Homo sapiens: one gene and its partners. The protein of the gene in region 2 interacts with the protein of the main gene of each other region in a pairwise test. Each region holds a gene or a part of one and is shown on either strand. Other genes may lie near its edges. The genes, in order: AQP9, TF and SYT2.

Region 1 (7,123 bases), on a different chromosome or scaffold from region 2:
CATTAGATGCTCCTCAAAAAAGGGGTTTGTGGTTAAGTAGAGCTGAAGACAGCTTTACATTCTGTTCCCCTCTTAGAGATTTACAGAGAACATTAAAGGCTCTGATAATTCCTGCAGTTGAGAAAACTGCTTATTTTGGTTTAACCCAGTGTTTCCCAAACATATTTGGGAAGGACCACATGTATTTTTTTCACTTAATTCTTGTTTGCATCTTTTGGAACTAGTGTTTTTCAGAACAGATTTTGAGCAACTCCCTACAAAAATGCTTTGAAAAGACATACTCTACTGGGTGAGCTCTCTCATGGGGAGGAAGGGGGTGAAGAAAATACATATGAATATGTACAAGTTTTTAAATTTCAAAAGGGTATACTATAAAATATAAGAAATGTGTTTCCTTCCAACCCCAGATTTTAAATATTATTCTCCACAGGTAACTAATATCAATACTTCCTGGTATGTTGTCAAAAAGTGTGCATGTGCCTCTGTGTGTGTGCATGTATATGTGTGTGTGTGTGTGTGCATGTGTTTATACAGGTGAGGGTATTTAACACATACCATTTCTGCCTGCTTTTTCTACTTGAATAGCTTAGAGTATTTTTGTATTAGCATGTAAACCTTCTATTTAATGGGTAAATAGGAGTCTTGCATAGATGCACCCCCATTTTTTTAACCAATCACCTGTTGATAGAAGCATAGGGTTTTCGGGAGGTACTCTCATAAGAAAGCTTGAATTTCCAGAAAGACTCTAAGGCATGTGCGCTGAGAGGGACTAAGCCTTCAAGTCGTTTATGGTCTTGACTGACTGTTCTAGGCTCACATCTTAGCATGACCAGCCAAGCTACTGAGATGGAGAAAAGGGCAAGGGGCAGGGCCGGCACACTTTGCTGGCATAGTTTCTCTTAAATCACTTGCTTTGCTTAGAAGTTTCAGTGAACTCAGCAATCCTGCCCCAGACATGAAATTAGATGCCTGCTGGAGGTATAATGGGCACCTAATTTCTTCACGGTTGAACTGCTTCAGCCATTTGAACCATCTGTGGGTTGTTAGGTCACTTTCACAGGGCTGATGAGTAAATAAGGGCCAACTTCTGCTCTCATTAGTATGTTTTCCTTTCTCGTCAAGTAATGAGAACATGTTGCAATGGGATTCGTCACTAAAGAAAAACTGACGAAACCCACTTCTGGAAAGTAGAAAAAAAAAATACTTCCCCTTTGAAAGTCAATGAAAACAGTGAGTTTTCTGGGTAAAATTAAAATTCACAATCAGAAGCAGAATCCTGTTTGGCAGAATCAAGTTTGGCTCCAGGAGTCTGCAGCCCTTAGATCAGTGATCCAGAACGGACTTTTCTCCCAAGCGCCTTGAAACTGTAAGATTTCCCAGGTGAGCCTGGTCCTCCACGTTCATTGCTGATAGGGGGAAGTCTGTAGGAAAATTCTCCCTCAGCTGCTAGTGACTCAAAGTCTAAGGATGTCAAAAGAGCTGGCCTCATTTGTAGGAAGCACGAGGTCTCTTAGTCATTTACGGTCACAGTTGGGAGAAAGGTCACAGAGTGCCGTTCTTTTGGGAGAGTGCTCTTCAACAGGCACCTGCATCCCCCAGGCTTCTCTTTTCAGTTTGCCACTCCACAGCAATCATTTCTGGCTGGCGGTATACCTGGGGAACCCAGCAGAAGCAAATGCAAACCTGCTCTGGAAGAACAAATCCACACCTTAGGCCACGTGGAATTCCCACAGGGAAAAATAAATCTCCCTGAAGAATTTATAATACAGATGTATAAAACACTAAAGGAAAAGATCCTTTATGAATAAGAGTCAGTAGATAAAATAGGCAGAATGATTCACTCCCCCGCAACTCGAGACGACAGAACAGGTTTAAAATATTATAAATATATTAGGCTTTGGTGAGTTAAGGAAATGAAAGAAATAAGCACACAAGAAAAGAAACTAAAAGAAAAAAAGAACCAAATAAAACATATAGAAATGAAAAGATAGTGAAACTAAAGACTCAATGAACGTGTTAAACAGAAGATTAGATAGAACCAAATAGGGAATTGGTGAACTGAAAGATAGATTTGAAACAGCAACTATACAAAATTCAGCATGGATTAAGAGAATAAGAGAAGAAATATGAAAAAAATGGTTGAGGCATAAAAAAATGACAGAGTCAACATGCATACCAATATAGTAGGAGTTCTAAAAGGAGAAAACAGACTGGGGGAAAGGCAAGGTAATAAAGAGGAAAATTTTCCAGAATTGGTAAATATTATAACCCTTTAAATTGAAGATGAAAAATGAGTTAAGAACTAGAAATAAATTCACCTCTAGGCACATAATAGTGAAATTTCAAAATAAAAAAACAAAGTGAAACTCTTATTAGTTACCAGATAAATTCAGATTATTAAGGACAAAAATGAGACCCAGAGACTTGTGAACAGCAATAACAGAGGCATTGGAAAAATGACAGAGACACCTGAAAAATGCCAAGCAAAAATAATTATCAACCTAAAATGTATCAGCTAATTTATCATTCAACCTTGAGCATGAAATAGACACATTCAGACAAAGACTGAGAAAGTTCATCTGTCACACACCCTTCCTGAAAAATTTTCTAAAGGAAGAACTGCAAGAATAAGGAGACAGAACCCAAGAGAAAGTAGTGGGTGTATGCAGTAATGATTAGCAAATAAACCAGTAAATGATAGGAATGCATTTTTAAATAAGCAAACAAAAATATTTATTTTAAAACACCAGTAACAACAATAATAATGAGGGAAAAATTTAAATATTAGACAACAATGACATGTAAGATAGAGTGGTTGATTGGAGTTAGAATTTTTTAAAGTTTTTGTGTTGTTCAGAAGAAAAATTGATTTACTTTAAGTTAAAAAATATATATATATATGGGTAATTTTTTTTTTTTTTTGGACACAAAGTCTCATTTTGTTGCCCAGGCTGGAGTGCTTTGGCACAATCTCCGCCTCCCAGGTTCAAGCAATTCTCCTGCCTCAGCCTCCTGAGTAGCTGGGATTACAGGTGCACACCACCATGCCTGGCTAATTTTTGTGTTTTTAGTAGAGACCAGGTTTCACCATGTTGGCCAGGCTGGTCTTGAACTCCTGACCTTAGGTGATCCACCTGCCTCGGCCTCCCAAAGTGCAGGGATTACAGGCATCAGCCATTGTGCCCAGCCTAAGGGTAAATACGTTAATAGAAAGGGCACACAGAGGAGAAAAGGCAAGAATAAAGAAAGCTGATCAACTCAATAGGAGGACATAAGGAAGATCAAAGCAGAAATTACTGAAATGGAAAACAAACTTCTTTTTAAAAATTGAAAAGAGGATGTCACCTCAGGTATAGTAGAGTTTTTTTCTTTTATCTTTTTTTTTTTTTTTTTTTTGAGATGGAGTCTCACTTCATCGCCCAGGCCAGAGTGCAGTGGCGCAATCTCAGCTCACTGCAACCTCCACCTTCCGGGTTGAAGCGATTCTCCTGCCTCAGCCTCCTGAGTAGCTGGGACTACAGGTGCATGCCATCATGCCCAGCTAATTTTTGTATTTTTAGTAAAGATGGGGTTTCACCATATTGACCAGGCTGGTCTGGAACTCCTGACCTCTTGATCCGCCCACCTCGGCCTCCCAAAGTGCTGGGATTACAGGCATGAGCCACCGCGCCTGGCCAGACCTGTAACTTTTAAAGAAATTTTTCTTGTCATCTGTCCATCCCTCTCTTTTTTCGTGCACATGCTGAGTAATCTTCAAGAAATACATAACTCCCATTTTACAAAGTGCTCCAGAAAATAGAAAAAAAGGGAAAATTTTGATTCATTTCATGAGTCTAATATAACCTTGGTAATAAAAGTAGAAAGACAACAACAACAACAAACAATGTTCTCAACAACAAAAAAAATGGTATATGAGGTAGTGCAAGTTTGGACAAACAGATCAATGGCACTGAATAGTCTAGGCATAGAACCACATATGCGTGTGAACAGGTGTATGATAGGAATGTCATCACAATCAGTGGAGAAAAGATAGACAGTCAAAACTGGCCTTGGGACAATTGTCTATCCTTGCAGACATAGATAATAGACCCCAATCCCACATCATACACCAAATAAATTCTAATTATTTAAAGACACAAATATGAAAAGCAAAATATTAAACCTCAATAAGAAAACACAAAATACCTTAATGTATGGATTTAAAATAAATATAAATATCCTATAACAATTAAGAAAAAGTAAAGTATCCCAAAGAGAAAGGTGCAGAGGCTGTAATCAGGCAATTTACAAAAGAGGCACCTAAACGTTTAGTAAATACATGAAAAGATAATCACTGCACTGGAATTGAGTACAATTACTAGTGAAATTCCATTTTTCTCTCTCTCAAATTAGCAAAATATAAAAGTTGGATGATATCAAGGATGGTTGAGTATGTGATAAATGGGAACTCATGTCGCTACTGGAAGTACAACTTTGAAATCACTTTGGAGAGCAATTTTATAATACACATAAAGTTGAGGATGCACATACCCTAGGACCACCAGGTCCTCTTCTAGGTATATACTCCAGAGAAACTCGTGAACATGTGTACAAGGAGACATGTACCAAGATGTTCAATGTAGCAGTCTTGGTGATTGTAATCAATAGTGAGAGGGCGATGGGTACATAAACCAGTCATACATGTTCCCAAATTAATAAATTTCAGAAAGTGTCTCTGGGAAAAAGTCTCAAATTGGAGAAGATGTATAAGCTATGAAGCTATATATGTAAATTTTTAAACATATAAAACTATAATATATATTCTTATAGGCAACTGTAGTAAAACTTCAAAAGCATATATTAGAATGTTAACTGTAGCGTGGTTAAGAGAAACTGGAGAGATTTGATTCTAATCTCAGCTCCACCACACACTTGCTTGTGGTCAAGTGACTTAAACATACTAAGTCCTAATTTCCTCATCTATAAAATGAGAGCAGTATCTTTACCTCATTAGATTTAGTTTAGATTTAGTTTAAGGATCAAAGTGTCTGGGGTATAGAGTATGCTTAGTGTTAACCTCCTTTGCCCTCTCTTGTCCTCGTCATCATATTTGACAGAAGACAGCCTCGAGTCTTTAAACTCTTGCTTCAAGGCAAGGATCTAAGGAGAATCCCCAGTGTTTAGCACTTCTGCATGTTCAGATTTAGAACCTCAGACGTTCTTAAAGGGACAGAACTCCCAAGTACAGAAGTACCAATCCTTGAAGGACTGAGCATTGAACATAAATCATAATAACAAGAGGCAGGTAAAACTGACGGTAGACATCCTCTGATGTTCTGCTGTGGTGGAAAGAGCTTTTGATAAAATGCTGCAAGACTGTGGGTGTCTGTTCTCTCAATTGAATGATGCAAGAGTCAGGCAACAGAGACCATCTTATTCCAAAGTTTCTGAGCGAGGGCCTGAGGATGGTGCACGACTTGGACAGACAAACCACCCACAGGCAGAATCCAGGGCACTGCTGACAGTAGGGGCTTCTGATCTAGCATCTGTTGGCCAACTGACAGCTCTAGCTCCATGTGACCCTCAGTCCTGGGCACCCTAGACTTGGAGAGATGGATGGTTTTGTAAAATAGCAAGCTAGAAGAACCAAGCATGGAGGAAACAGAGAAAGAATAGGTGGCTGTTGAGCCAGAAAGCAAGACAGAGAAGTTATGGGGTCTCTTGAGGCCCACTTTCCTATAGGTCCTTTGCTCTGAACCAAAAGAGTGGTCTTGAGGAAAAGCTAGAAAACAGAAATACTAGAGGAAAAACACAGTGCAATGCTTGGTCAATGTGTTTATCAGAGCTGAAGACATCACTGAGCCACCTCAGAACCCTGGTGTTACCTGAGGTTTGAATGTGTTTGTAGGTGGTGAAGAGATCCCAAGACTCTGCTAGCAGATCTCCTGTAAAATATCCCCACCACGATCACGTCTGTTCTGTAAAATCATCTTTTGACACTGCTAATGTATTTTAAACTGTAAACTTTGTCAAGTTCGCTTGGGCTTTCACATGAAAGGAGTTAATTCTCATCAAATGATGGTATTAGGGAATGACTGGAGTCAAGATACCAAGCCCAGCTCTTTCATTCAAGGGCTGATAAGTCTCTTAATTGTGTTACACTTGTCTCTCCATCTGGCAAAATGCAGTTGATCGCTCTCCTTTCTCTCTCTTCAGGAAACATTCAAACAGGAACGAGAATTTGGACAAGCGAACACTCTGTGCTGCTCAAGGGAAGAGCACAGTGGAAGTCCAAGGGCGAGTGTGTGCCCAGGGCAGGGCAACTGGGCTCTGGGCTGATTCCCGGGATGCATGATTACATCAGCCTGAGCTCAGCTTCTCCACCAATAAAAAGGGCCAGTGATATCTGCCCACCCTTATCTCAGAGCTCTCCTGCCAGTACCTGGGCATTCCAAATAATGTACTAGACCAAAATTGTCCTGGATTCTGCCCTGCAAAGTGGACGTTTCCTTTAATTTGGCTTATAAACTTTCTGATTTCACTCTAAATCCTGACCATAGATTCTTTTGTCTCAAAAGCTCCCTAAGATAGAATAGACCTACTTCAAGATCTGAACAAACTTTGTAATAATAATTTTAAAGCCCTAGAGTGTCTATAACCAGCATGTCTGATTGAGAATCCTCTCAAAATGGAGAGACAAACTCTGTGACCCCAGCAAGGAGGGATGATTTCTCACCCAGTCCTGGTGGAAGGTAGGAGCAGGAAGAAGGGAACACTGCAGTGTCTGAAATTTCTCACATACAATCAACCATCCCTGTCCTTCCTTCCTCCTTCCTGTACTGCCCACTCCCCTATTTCCTCCATAGTCTGTGTTCCAGGATAGTTTCTTTCTATTTCCTTCAGGGCACTGAAGGTAAAGATCAAGGGTACTACTTTTAGCAGAAGTACTTGCATTTTTTTCCATTCTAAGAGATGCCAAAAGTTAGACCTCTAATGCGGAAGCTTGACAGGGTGAGAAAAGAATTCAGCATCTGTCCGACTACACAGTATGTTATCTACTCAAAAGTCCAGCCCTGGAAAGCTGTCCTTCCACCTCAGGAGGAAATACAGCTGCTTGCTGGGTTGTTCACTTCAGCATCTTCAA
Region 2 (5,872 bases):
TTTTAACACAAAGTGTACTCAATGTATTAGTTTACTAACTCTAGTTTTGTTATATGCTGGCAATCTCTTTAACATCTAGAAAGACTAGATGTTATAAATTAGGACACCATCCAATGTTATGCAATTGGGATCATACAGTATGTATCATGCTTTTTCACACATCATGAATATTTACCAATTCAAAATTCCAAAGCTATGTAAATGTTTGTTTGTATACACAGCAAAGTAAAAGGAAATGCAGATATAAGGGACAACAGTCAATTGTGTCATACTGTAAACACACTGATATAAAGCCCTTTGCACTTTCTTCTGCTCCTTCCTCCCTGAATCAGCATAAATATAATGTGAAGTGGTTTGATCAATTTCCAAAAGACAATGTTTCATATGAATCAAAAGGATATCTACAAAATGTGTTATTTACTACCTCTACTTTTAACATACTGTGTGCACTTCTAAACATCTAGAAGACTAGATGTTTCAAATAAGGACTTAATTTTGTCCACTATATGTCCAGTAGTGTTACTACTGGAGGGTGTCCAGGTTCTTGGCTTCTTGAACAAATAATTGGACAAAATGCACAAACAAAGCAAGGAAAGAATGAAGCAACAAAAGCAGAGGTTTATTGAAAACAAAAGTACACTCCACAGGGTGGCAGAGGGCTTGAGCATAGGGGCTCAATAGCCCGGTTACAGAATTTTCTGGGGTTTAAATACCCTCTAGAGGTTTCCATTGGTTACTCAGTGTATGCCCTATGTAAATACAGAAGACATTTCCCATCATAGCTGAAGTGTTTCCATTTGATTTAGTTCTAGGAAGTGAGCATGCATCTGCCTTATATTCCTTGCCTACAGACCCTATTCTTCTGCCTCATTTCCCTCCAGAGATGGGATCCCCATAAATCTTTATGGGAGGTGGAGGGGCCGATGGTCTTTCTTTTGTAACTGCTTCATGTTGGCTTGAGGCCTAGTCCCTACCTATTGAGGATCACAGAAGTCCTGCTCTGCTCTTTCTAGTGAAGGCAGGGTAGCTCCTTGATGGCCAGGGGTGGTGGAACTGGATGAAACTTTTGTTGCATGATCATCTGAAGCTTGATGGTCTTTTGGCGAGAGGAAATTAATTTGGTTAAAAGATTTAATGGGAACTCAGGGGGTGGATATCTATGCTGTCAGGAATGTTTGTTATAGAGATTTGTAGGAGAAAAACAAAACCTGGCCTGTGGTCTGTTCTAGGATCTATGTGTTTCCTTAAGGTCTTGGCATACGTGACTCCGTTTTGGTTTAGTTTGGTCTGTTGGGGCCTGGCGCATGGGCTCAGTACAAAAAAATGACCTCCCATAATTTTGTTTAAAAAAAATTCCCCTTTTTGGCCAGGTGCAGTGGCTCACGCCTGTTATCCCAGCACTTTGGGAGGCCGAGGTGGGCAGATCATGAGGTTAGGAGATCGAGACCATCCTGGCTAACATGGTGAAACCCCGTCTCCACTAAAAATACAAAAAAATTAGCCGGGCGTGGTGGCAGGTGCCTGTAGTCCCAGCTACTCGGGAGGCTGAGACAGAAAAATGGCGTGAACCCGGGAAGTGGAGCTTGCAGTGAGCCGAGATCGTGCCACTGCACTCCAGCCCGGGTGACAGAGTGAGACTCCATCTCAAAAAAAAAAAAAAAAAAAAAAATTCCACTTTTTTGGTCAGGTTCTCACTTAAGTGAGAGTGTGACCAAAACTTAGGGCCTTACTTAGCACCACTCTCAGTTACCAACACTTTGGGCTTTTGGACTCAGCACATCATTCGTAGGTTACAGTGTCCTCATGGCTGCAATTTCTTTCAGCTCTTGTCATTCCAGTTGAAGAGAGGCCATTTGACATTCTAGAGGTGGCAGCATGCAAACATTTAAAACCGTTGAGAGAATACAGCACACCAGGGAGACTATTATTATGACTATCAGGAGGATAATACCAAGAGTTGAGAGTAAGTATGCTCCTTATCCAGGGTCACCATAAACCAAACCTCCTAAACTCAAATAGATTAAACAATGAGCTAAAGAGTCTACTCACTTAACTAAGCAGTCTCTTCATTAATTTGCTACAACTGAATCTCTATAATACCTGATGTTTTCTCCATAGGCCATGAGTGCCAGCAGCTGCACAGATACTCTTCTGTTTAGCCAACTCTATTATTTAGCATAACTTTCTTAAGATAATTTAGTCTATTATGTAACCATAGCCTTTACAGTAAACTGCTATGGAGCCTATTATGAGGGATACATTTGCCTCTTTTATTCCAAATCATGGAAAAAGGACCTAAAGCTGGCTGCAAAATTCTTCACAAATAAAAGTATAACCCATAATTGTACACAACAGATCCTTTTTCCACTTCTATTCTTCATAGAGGCAAAAGCAAGGAAAAAATATTCAAAGATAAGAGTCTCATGATAATAGAGAAGTCTTGATTCATGATCTTGGGAAAAGCTGTTCACATCAAGGATGCCATCTTCTTCGGGAGAGAAACTTCCCTGGTTAGCTTTACCTTAAGGGTTCCAATGGGTGTACAGTTCCAAGAGTGTGGAGGGACTCTTCTCAGTTGTGAGATCATGAACCCAAAGTTCAAAGTCCAGAAGTTTTGCTGTAGTGTGGATGGCAAGGACAGTCTTTATCCAATGTTTTCAGAAGATACAATCTTCAGTTTCTAGGTTGTGAAGGAGTTGATTGTCCTCAGTGAACCATAAAAAGCTTTCTTTACCTTGTGAAAATACTTGGTGGCATAATAACTTAGTGTTATAACATCAGCCCTCTTGCATGGGAAAGCTTTTATACAACCAGAAAACATGCACTGAAAATAACAATTGAATAAAATCCCTCTATAAAATGTTTAAATGGCCTATCAGGTGACTGGATGTACCTGAAGCTTTGATTGTTTTCCCAGGAATATGGGACCAAACATTGGTTATAAACTATTTTAGCAATTTATAAGTCACCACATCAATATATTCAATTTGGATCATTTTATCTTTTCCGTGACGAGTCATGTAATGCAGAAATTTTACTAACAAAAGCTTTAACGACTTAGGAAGGACAAGGTGGCCATCCTGGTTCTCCATGAGTTCATGCTTAATTAACATTAGACTCATATCCTCTTGAATACCAGTTGTTTCCCCAAATTAGGTGCATAACACTGATAACTGATGGGTTATCATAGGTAATTTGATTTAAATGATGGAGTTTATTCAAATTTTATATCTAAACAGTTTCAGTATCAGCTGATTTAGCATGAAAATCTGGCAAAGTATTTTCTTGGTATTTAATTAATTTTTGTTCTACTTGGGTTAGCAGTTTTAGAACTCAGTCAGTCTTTTCATTAAAGTTCCAGGAATTCTTACCCAGTTCAAATGATATAATTCTAAACTTATTAGAAACCTGTATTCAAGAGTGCTTTTTAGGGTCCTTTCCAATCTTTCATGAATCTCCTAAAAGACACCATATTCTAGGACTTTGCATGCTTGTGAAGTTTTCAGAAACTGCATCAGCATTAAGCAATTAACTGTGGAAATGACTTTAAATAGTTATAGTTAAAAACACAATTGACAAGGAAATTTGGTTATTTCTGTGGTCTACAATAACATAATAATCATAATTATGATTGATAGCATATACTCAGACATATTGGAATTTTAGAAATCTCATACAATTTTGGAACATATATTAATATTATTCACTAAAATATAACCTGAAGAAGATTAAATTTTTTTCTTTTTGACAATGCTTCCCATGTAATTAAACATGTCAAATAATTCTGTTTACCTCTCTTTTGGATGCTTCAGGGGCCCTCTGCAGCATCTCAAAGTTAGAGGTTAGAAAAGACAATTTTGAAGCTGAAATTTGATTTTGGGAAGCCTATTAAATATGTTAAAGATTTAAAACACTTGACATTATGAAATGGAATTCCAGGTTACCATAGTCATTCATTTAGCAAAATGATGACTCAAAAATGTTTTAAAAGGCAAAAACCTTTCCATGTTGATAGATGGAAGACTTACTTTACAAACAATCTGTCTCTTGTCTTTCCCTTCCTTTTTTTTGGTGGGGGGGTAGTTTATTCAAAAGGCAAACAAAGATCTTTCATTATCTTTTAATACTGCATGAAAATCTTGTTCAAGAGAGAAAGCCAAATTTCACCCTTGCATTAGTGTGCTATTAATGTCAACCCCAATTTTTAAGAAAACCTTGTAGACATATCTTTCCAATCTTAATCCGTTTGACCATAAGGTGAGATTCTCATAAACCTTTTATAATCCTTTACAAATGTTTGTTAAAGAGCAGATCGGTGCTTTAAGAAAACCCTGTTTGTGCTTTTATTTTGATGTTCAATTTATGGAAAAACCAGAAAATACCCCTTTAAATTTAGTCAATATGTTCACACACATAATTTTTTACAATATTAATTTTTATAAATCTTCCACAACTCATTCAAACTTTTAGCTTTATCCTAACTTAAAACAATCCTTTAACCCTTTAGACAGAAAAAAAAATCTACATTCCCATGCCTTGTTATAATCTTTCACTGAAAATGCATTCACTTTTCTTACGTAACTTGCATGTAAAACTGTTGCTTCAGTAGTCTCACTTACATGTTACAATGTTAACTCTTAGCGAGTTTTACTTTTGGTGAAAACTTTGGTAAGTTAAGGATTTTAATTATATATTAGTTGTGGAGTCTAGGACCCAGAGAGAAGTACACTTAAGGTCTGACTCCAGCATCTGACTCCACGTGTCTCAGGCCTTACCGAGCTGTAAAGCAGGCAAGTTGTAGAGTTAAGAGTCATAGTGGCATTTTATGAAGCATTTAGGAGGTCTAATCACCGTTAAATTGTATATTTCTTGCATAAATTCTCTTTTGTAAATTATTTCATGACTTACACAGACCATCTACGACATGCTTTGACTTTCTAACTTGTCCTAAACATCCCTCTTTTTTAACAACCGCTTATTTTACTTTAGGACACGAATTTACGATATAAGATCCTTTCTTATATAAAATCTCCTTTCTTTATAACCTTCTTTGCATAGCTAGGGGACATGGCTAATTCTATTTGTCCCCAGGCCTTATCTAGAATCTAATGCTCCAAAATAAATTGAGCAATTTTTAAAAGTCAAAGAAGCGGTTTATGACCTTAAAGCATTTTGCAAATCTAATATCTGACCTGCATAATTTAGACTAAATATTTACATTTTGAAGATATTTTTATTTTACCAATAATCTTTAAAACTGTCTTTATTTCCCAAAGATTACTTAAGTTACATGAAGTAAATAGAAGGCATTACATTTTTTACTTTTCTGATAAAATATTTGATTTAAGCTCTTATTATTATTAAGCTAATTAATTAATGCTCTTTTATAGTACACACACAACACATATAAATACACAGACAGAAGATAAAGGACTCATTCCCTAAGCCAGGAATTGAACCCTAAACCCAGGCTGCCACTGTGAAAAGAGAAAGCATGGCCACATGGTTACAAGGTCAAGCTCCCAAAGACATGACTGACCAGTCTGCTGGTGTGTCTTGAACAGCAGGTCTATGGGGTCCTAAGCACACATTTTATTCTAAGGTACCCCTCTTTATGACAAAACAATACAGAAAGACACAAAGCACACCAGATTCACTACAGCTTAAGATCGGCCTCAGAATTCTTTTTTTATATTAATCAAAACTTTACAGAGGAGATAAACAGTGACTTTTACTATTCATTTATGCAGTTTGCACAGAGAGACAGAGACCAGAGTCTGGCTGGTAAGAAATTCTTACCCTTTTGCCAGTATGCCAGGTTTCTGGGTTCTGTCTCCCAAAGCAGCCCTAGGAACCCTGCTTGACTATATGC
Region 3 (5,482 bases), on a different chromosome or scaffold from region 2:
ATGCTGGAGAGCTGATAGGTAGCTGGAGTGGCCCAGGGAGACCTATGGGAAGGACCCGTCCTACCATTAGGGGGCTTCTCTCTATGAATGCTAAGAAACAAAGGGCATCCATTCCAAATGAGTAGCAGAGGTGACCTTCTAGGGTTTCTACCCATGCTCAGTTGTATCCCATTCCCTGTTCACCTTTTGTCCCCAGCACTGATATAAAAGCCATATATATGTTAGTCAGGTTTGCACTGAGTCTTCTTCCAATCCTTCAGCCTGGACAACAGAGTGAGGTCCCCTTGTGGCCAGAGGCCAGCCCTCCTTGCCTGCCTTCCTTTGACCTCTCTTTTCCATCCATGAAGCCCTCAGGCCCTTGCCATTTTTTCACCACAGAAAACTCATGGCTTCTCCAGAAGCCTGAGTATCTCTCTTTCCCAGCACAAATGGCAGCATCTCTATCCTGCCCCATCTGGGCCACTTCAGCTTCCTGTAGACACCCAAGACAGATGGACAGTGTTGGAGGGAATCAGGCTTTGAGGATCCAGTGTGAAGAAGTTGCAGAGTGTCTTTTTATTTTATTTTAAAAAGGGGGAAGGGGCTTTTGGTTTTGCTTTGTTTTTTGGATGAAGGAGTGAGGGAAATGAGGGAATACCCCCACCAGAAACAGACTGGAAAGCCTGCCTGTCTCTTGGAGATCCTTCTTTGTCTTGTTAGTGGTACATGGGAAGTTATGTTTTTACTGGTGTGTGTGTGTGTGTGTGTGTGTGTACTTAATGATGGGAAGGTAAGACTCTGATCAGGATTATGAACTGCGGTCCTTGGGACCAAAGGTGTGGTCATGGTAGAGAGTTGTAGGACAATAGGGTGTTTTCAGAATCTGGGTGGCCACAGAGTGGGATTTCCTGGTATGGACATCAGAAGTCACTGGACTCTTCTCCCAACCCCAGAGTTATGGGATTTTGGTGCTTTCTCAGGGTCTCTCCCCAGACTCACTCTTCTCACCCATATCCCACAGACTCACTCATGGAGACCCCCTTGTCAATATCCCCTCTACCTTTACTCCTTTGCCCTTTCCCAATTCATCTTCTACCACCTGGATTCTTTTCCATTCATGAACTTCATTCAGCCCTTCCAAAGCCCAAGATTTGCATTCCCTTGACAGGGAGGAAAGGCAATGGTAGGAACCTCTGGTGGTCTGGGTGTCTATGTGCCTGGTGACCAGGGCTGGATTTTTATTACTCTGAGCCCACTGCTAGTGAGGAGCCTTGAGGGGTGGGGACAGGTTGCTGAGTGATTTTGAACGTTGACACCAGTGTGGAGCCAGTGTGGGTGTGGGGAGCAGTGCCTTCCTCAGGTCCCAGCTGGTCCTGATATGCCACGTAGTGGATGGCATCTGTCTTGGTCCATGGGCTTGGTGGGAACATGCTTCTGCTTGTGTGTTTTCCATACCTGAGGGCTGACGTAGCTTAAACCACAGGGCATCATGCCAAACACTCACTGCTGGGCAGGTTTATTTCTGGGGATGTCAGGGTACTGGGGTGTAGGCACTAAGCAGGATAGAGTTAGGGTGTCTGGCTAGTAAGGGGTTCTGGACGCCTCTGGGGCTGTGAGTTTTCATCTCAAAGTCTGTTCCAGAGAAAGGAAAGTAGTATAGAGGTGATTTTTAGAGAAGCTGAGACCATGAAAACAAGCCTAATCCCATCCAGAAACTGGGGTAAAGTCTGAAAGTTCGTTTTCTTCTTCCTCCCTGAATAATTGTTCCAGAAGGGATGCTAACTCTGCCAGAGCTACAGGCAGATTTTTGGGCTTTGGAAGTGGAAGCTGAGGCCTGGGGAAGGCTGGGTAAGGAATGCTGGGGCAATCTCAGACAGTAGGCAGGTGCTTGGCATGAATGAGAAGTGACTTTCCTGGAGTCCCTCAGTAGAGGATGAGATAGCAGGGATTAGGCCACAGTCTCAGATCCTGATCTTTTTTCTTCCTAGGAAAGCATACATAACTTGTGTCTGCAGAATCAGTGTGGGATGATTTTGCTGGCCCAAGGCTTCAGCGAGAGGGAGAAGAGAGGTCACTACAGCCCTCCTGTGGGTAAAAGCAGCTCTCTTATAAACCTGCCTCCATGCAGTGGGGTGGGGGTAAGGGTGGGTGACAGCAAAGAGGTTGAGGAACCTCCCTGGGTTTGGGGAGTGAGAGCTTCCATGTTCCCTTAATGTCCTAGGTTAATTCATAAGGCATCTGAGTCCTGGGTCTCACCCAGCCTCACAGAGAGAAAAACTGTCCCTGAGGGTGTCCCCTCCCACTCAAAGGTAGAAAGAGATTGAGCCAGGAACTGCCCTCATATCCTCTGCTCTGCCCCTTCCCTTCCCTTTCCTCTGCCCCTCCCACCTAAAGCTGTTTGGGGCCCTTTCTCAGAGCCCTGGGTGGTGGCAGGCAGGGAGGAGTCCCAAGATCCTGGTGGCCCTGAGCCCCATGCTATGGTTGCCAGATTTGGCAAATAAAAATACAGGATGTCCAGTTACATTTGAATTTCAGTTCAACAACAAACAATTATTAAGTGTAAATATGTCCTAGGCAAATAGTTGGGACATATACTAAAAAATAATTTGTTGTTTATCTGAAATTCAAATGTAACTGGTCATCCTGCATTGTGTCTGGGAACCCTACCCTATGACTTTTCCCCCTCTCCCTTTGGTCCCAAGGGGCCAGGAACCCCAAGGATTTGACTTAACCAGTTTTTTGAACTGCAATATTGAGAAGGGGACACTGTGACTTGAAGACACATGAATTACTTTATTTTTTAAGCAACAACAAAATAAGAACCTTCTGAAGCCATTTGAGCCTCATCTGCCCCCATCCGTGTATATTTAATTATATATAAAAGAAGATAATTACCTAGAAACATATGAACAGAATCTTGTTTAATCAAGATGCATGTCTATAACTTTCTGTAAATAGCCGCATGGCAATGCTGAGAGTCCCCTTGATCCCCAACCTCAAACCCATTTTACAGAACTGGTTGAGGCTGCTCCTTTGATTTTATGTCGTGTAAAGTCTTTGTTCCCCAGCCCCACCCCTGCCTCCTCCCATCGGGAAACCCCCCATGGGAGTCATCAGTGGGCGGGAGTCGGTGCCTGCTCCAGTCCAGCCCTGCCTTGGGAGATGCTGGAGGACCCTGTCGCCCTGAAGGCCTGTTTGCTGCACATCTGCCTGCAGAGCCAAACCTCAGGGCCCGGTGCAGTGTCCAGCCTGGTATCTGGCATCCCAGTAGCTTCCATGTTCTGTGTATGTGTGTGGTGTGCCCCTTCCTCCCACTGTTTGAATTCACTGAAAAGCCATAAAGGGGGCCTCCTGCTGGAGATTTGGCCTCCCTTGGCTCCTCCCAGGAGCCCCCATGTCTCTCCAACTGGCTCCCCACAGACCACTTCTGAAGGGCTCACCTGTTGTCACTCCCTCCTGCTCCCTCAGTCCCGTGTCATGAGAATGGACGGTGTCCAGGGCTTCCGGTGGGGTCTCAGGAGATGCCCATGCTGGCCCTGCCCGAGCTGGCTTTCTCGGCCTGGGTTCACAGTTCAGCTCCATCTCTACGCTGGGCGAGGAGCAGACAGCAGTGGGACTCCATGGTTCTGGATACCTTTCCTGGGGTCCCTGTGGAGGCAACCAGGATTTTCAGGAGCAGCCAGTCAGCAGCTCAGCCAGGGATGACAGAACCATCCCTGCTTACTCACCTCTGTAGTGTGAGGGTCTGTGGGTGGTGATGGAGGAGGGACTCAGGGAGAGGCCGGTGAATACAGGGGCTGACGCTCTTCCCTCGTGCATCCTCCTGCAGTCTGACAGAAAGCAGCCCAATAGCGGGGCAACCTCAGGGCTACCAGCGATCCCCTGAGAGTGGGGTGGGCAGGTTCAGCTGTGAGAGAGGCTCAGGCAGAGCAGGTGTGGACTAAGTCCCCTGACCTTCACACCTGCTCCCCAGAGAAGCCCCAGCCAGTTGCACCAAGTAGCAGAGGTGAGTAGAGGGGCCTGGGGGCTTCCAAGGCCCCAGGTCATCCTGTTGAACTGAGAGGGACAGGTAGCCCCCCTGCCTGCGGCCCCTGGCCCCATGGGCACCTGAGGGCAGTACTGCATGGGAAGAGCCCAGGATGCCTCAGGCCTGGCAACTGTGACAAGTATGAGGAAGGAGAGAGAACGGGAAGGGAATCAGGCAGGGCGCATTCGAGGAGGCCAGAGGTGGCGAGGCAGGCTTGCCCTGCACAAACCACAACAGAAGTTGCACACAGAAGTCCCAGGGACCTTTGTGCTGGGAACTGAAAGAGTGGGGAAGGTGGAGGGGACCATTTCAGAGCAGGCTGGAATCAGGTGCTTGGACCAGTGAAGACATGTCTTGCTTCCTCCAGCTCTCTCTGGGGCCCTCCCACTCTCCACACCCACAGCAGAGACAAATTGAGGCAAGAGTTGAGAGAGCATCTGTCTGGTGAGGTGATGGGAGCAGTGTGCATGGGGCACCAGGAGTTCCTCCATCCCACCTGCCTTAGCGATCAGGACTTTAGGGGGGCCTCTTCAAAGATAGTGACCCTTCTGCCCTGACTCCTGCCCATCTAAGGACTTGATTTGCTGCTTTCTGAAAACCCTGGGGCTGAAAACTTCAAAATCAGGGCCTGGCAGAGCCTAGCTTCGCCAAGGTCAGCCCACCAGGAGCCCTGCCTTCGTCTCCATAGGAAGGACACATGTACAGCCCTTGCCCCCGGCCCTCTCATTCCCACTTCTGCTTGGCAATGCTCTCCATCTCCCTTATGTGGACTCTTGTTCTTGTCTGATCTCTTGTCAAATTGTTATTTTGTAATGAACTGCGTCTCCTTATTAAAGAAATGAGCTGAAAGAAACCTGGGGGTGGGGGGTGTCTCTGGTTGTTTTTGCTGCGCTGAGGTGGGGGTGAGGGAGTGGGAGCTGCCTGTGAGGGTCAGTATGGTGGGTGAGGGTGGTGAGATGGTCCTGAGGCTCTGGCTTCTAACCCAGAATCTCCCTTCAGGGAAGCACCAAAAGGGGCTGAGGTCCCCTCTCTCCTGGGGTTGGGGGAAGACCAGATTGGCACTCTGGTGGGTGCTGGGGCCCACACATCTCCTGAGAACACATGCCAGGCTGTGGAACTGTGGGGAGTGTGGTGGTGCCGGGGAACATTGTCTGGGAGGCTGGGCGGGGCGGGGTGGTGGTGGGGACTATATTCTTGAATTCCCTTCCAGTAGAGCTGGGCTTAGGGAACAGCCACAGTCTGAGCCCAATGACGAGAGGGAGGCTGGCCCTGGGAAGTGGGAATTTGAAAAGTAACAATTTCTACAAAGTCCTCAGTTGACTCTTTGCAAATAACTTGAAATGTCTTTAACTTCTGAAGCAAAGATGTTAGGGACCAGGGATAGGGCGTCAGAATTTTTAGGGAAAGGGAGAGTGGGACAGCATTGCCCCCAAAGACCAGGGAAGAGTAAAACTCCTTCTTCGGTTCCCACTTCCA

The links.
Region 1: the proteins of TF (region 2) and AQP9 interact in binary tests that used the Homo sapiens proteins (3 or more experiments, as listed by UniProt).
Region 3: the proteins of TF (region 2) and SYT2 interact in binary tests that used the Homo sapiens proteins (3 or more experiments, as listed by UniProt).

What each region holds. Positions count from the first base shown.
Region 1 is NC_000015.10:58,141,287-58,148,409, reverse strand, and holds part of AQP9 (aquaporin-9), read right to left. Parts: intron 1-7,123. UniProt on the Homo sapiens protein: Aquaglyceroporins form homotetrameric transmembrane channels, with each monomer independently mediating glycerol and water transport across the plasma membrane along their osmotic gradient.
Region 2 is NC_000003.12:133,791,368-133,797,239, reverse strand, and holds the end of TF (serotransferrin isoform 1 precursor), read right to left. Parts: 3' UTR 599-5,872; downstream 1-598. UniProt on the Homo sapiens protein: Transferrins are iron binding transport proteins which can bind two Fe(3+) ions in association with the binding of an anion, usually bicarbonate.
Region 3 is NC_000001.11:202,589,973-202,595,454, reverse strand, and holds the end of SYT2 (synaptotagmin-2), read left to right. Parts: 3' UTR 1-4,859; downstream 4,860-5,482. UniProt on the Homo sapiens protein: Exhibits calcium-dependent phospholipid and inositol polyphosphate binding properties. May have a regulatory role in the membrane interactions during trafficking of synaptic vesicles at the active zone of the synapse.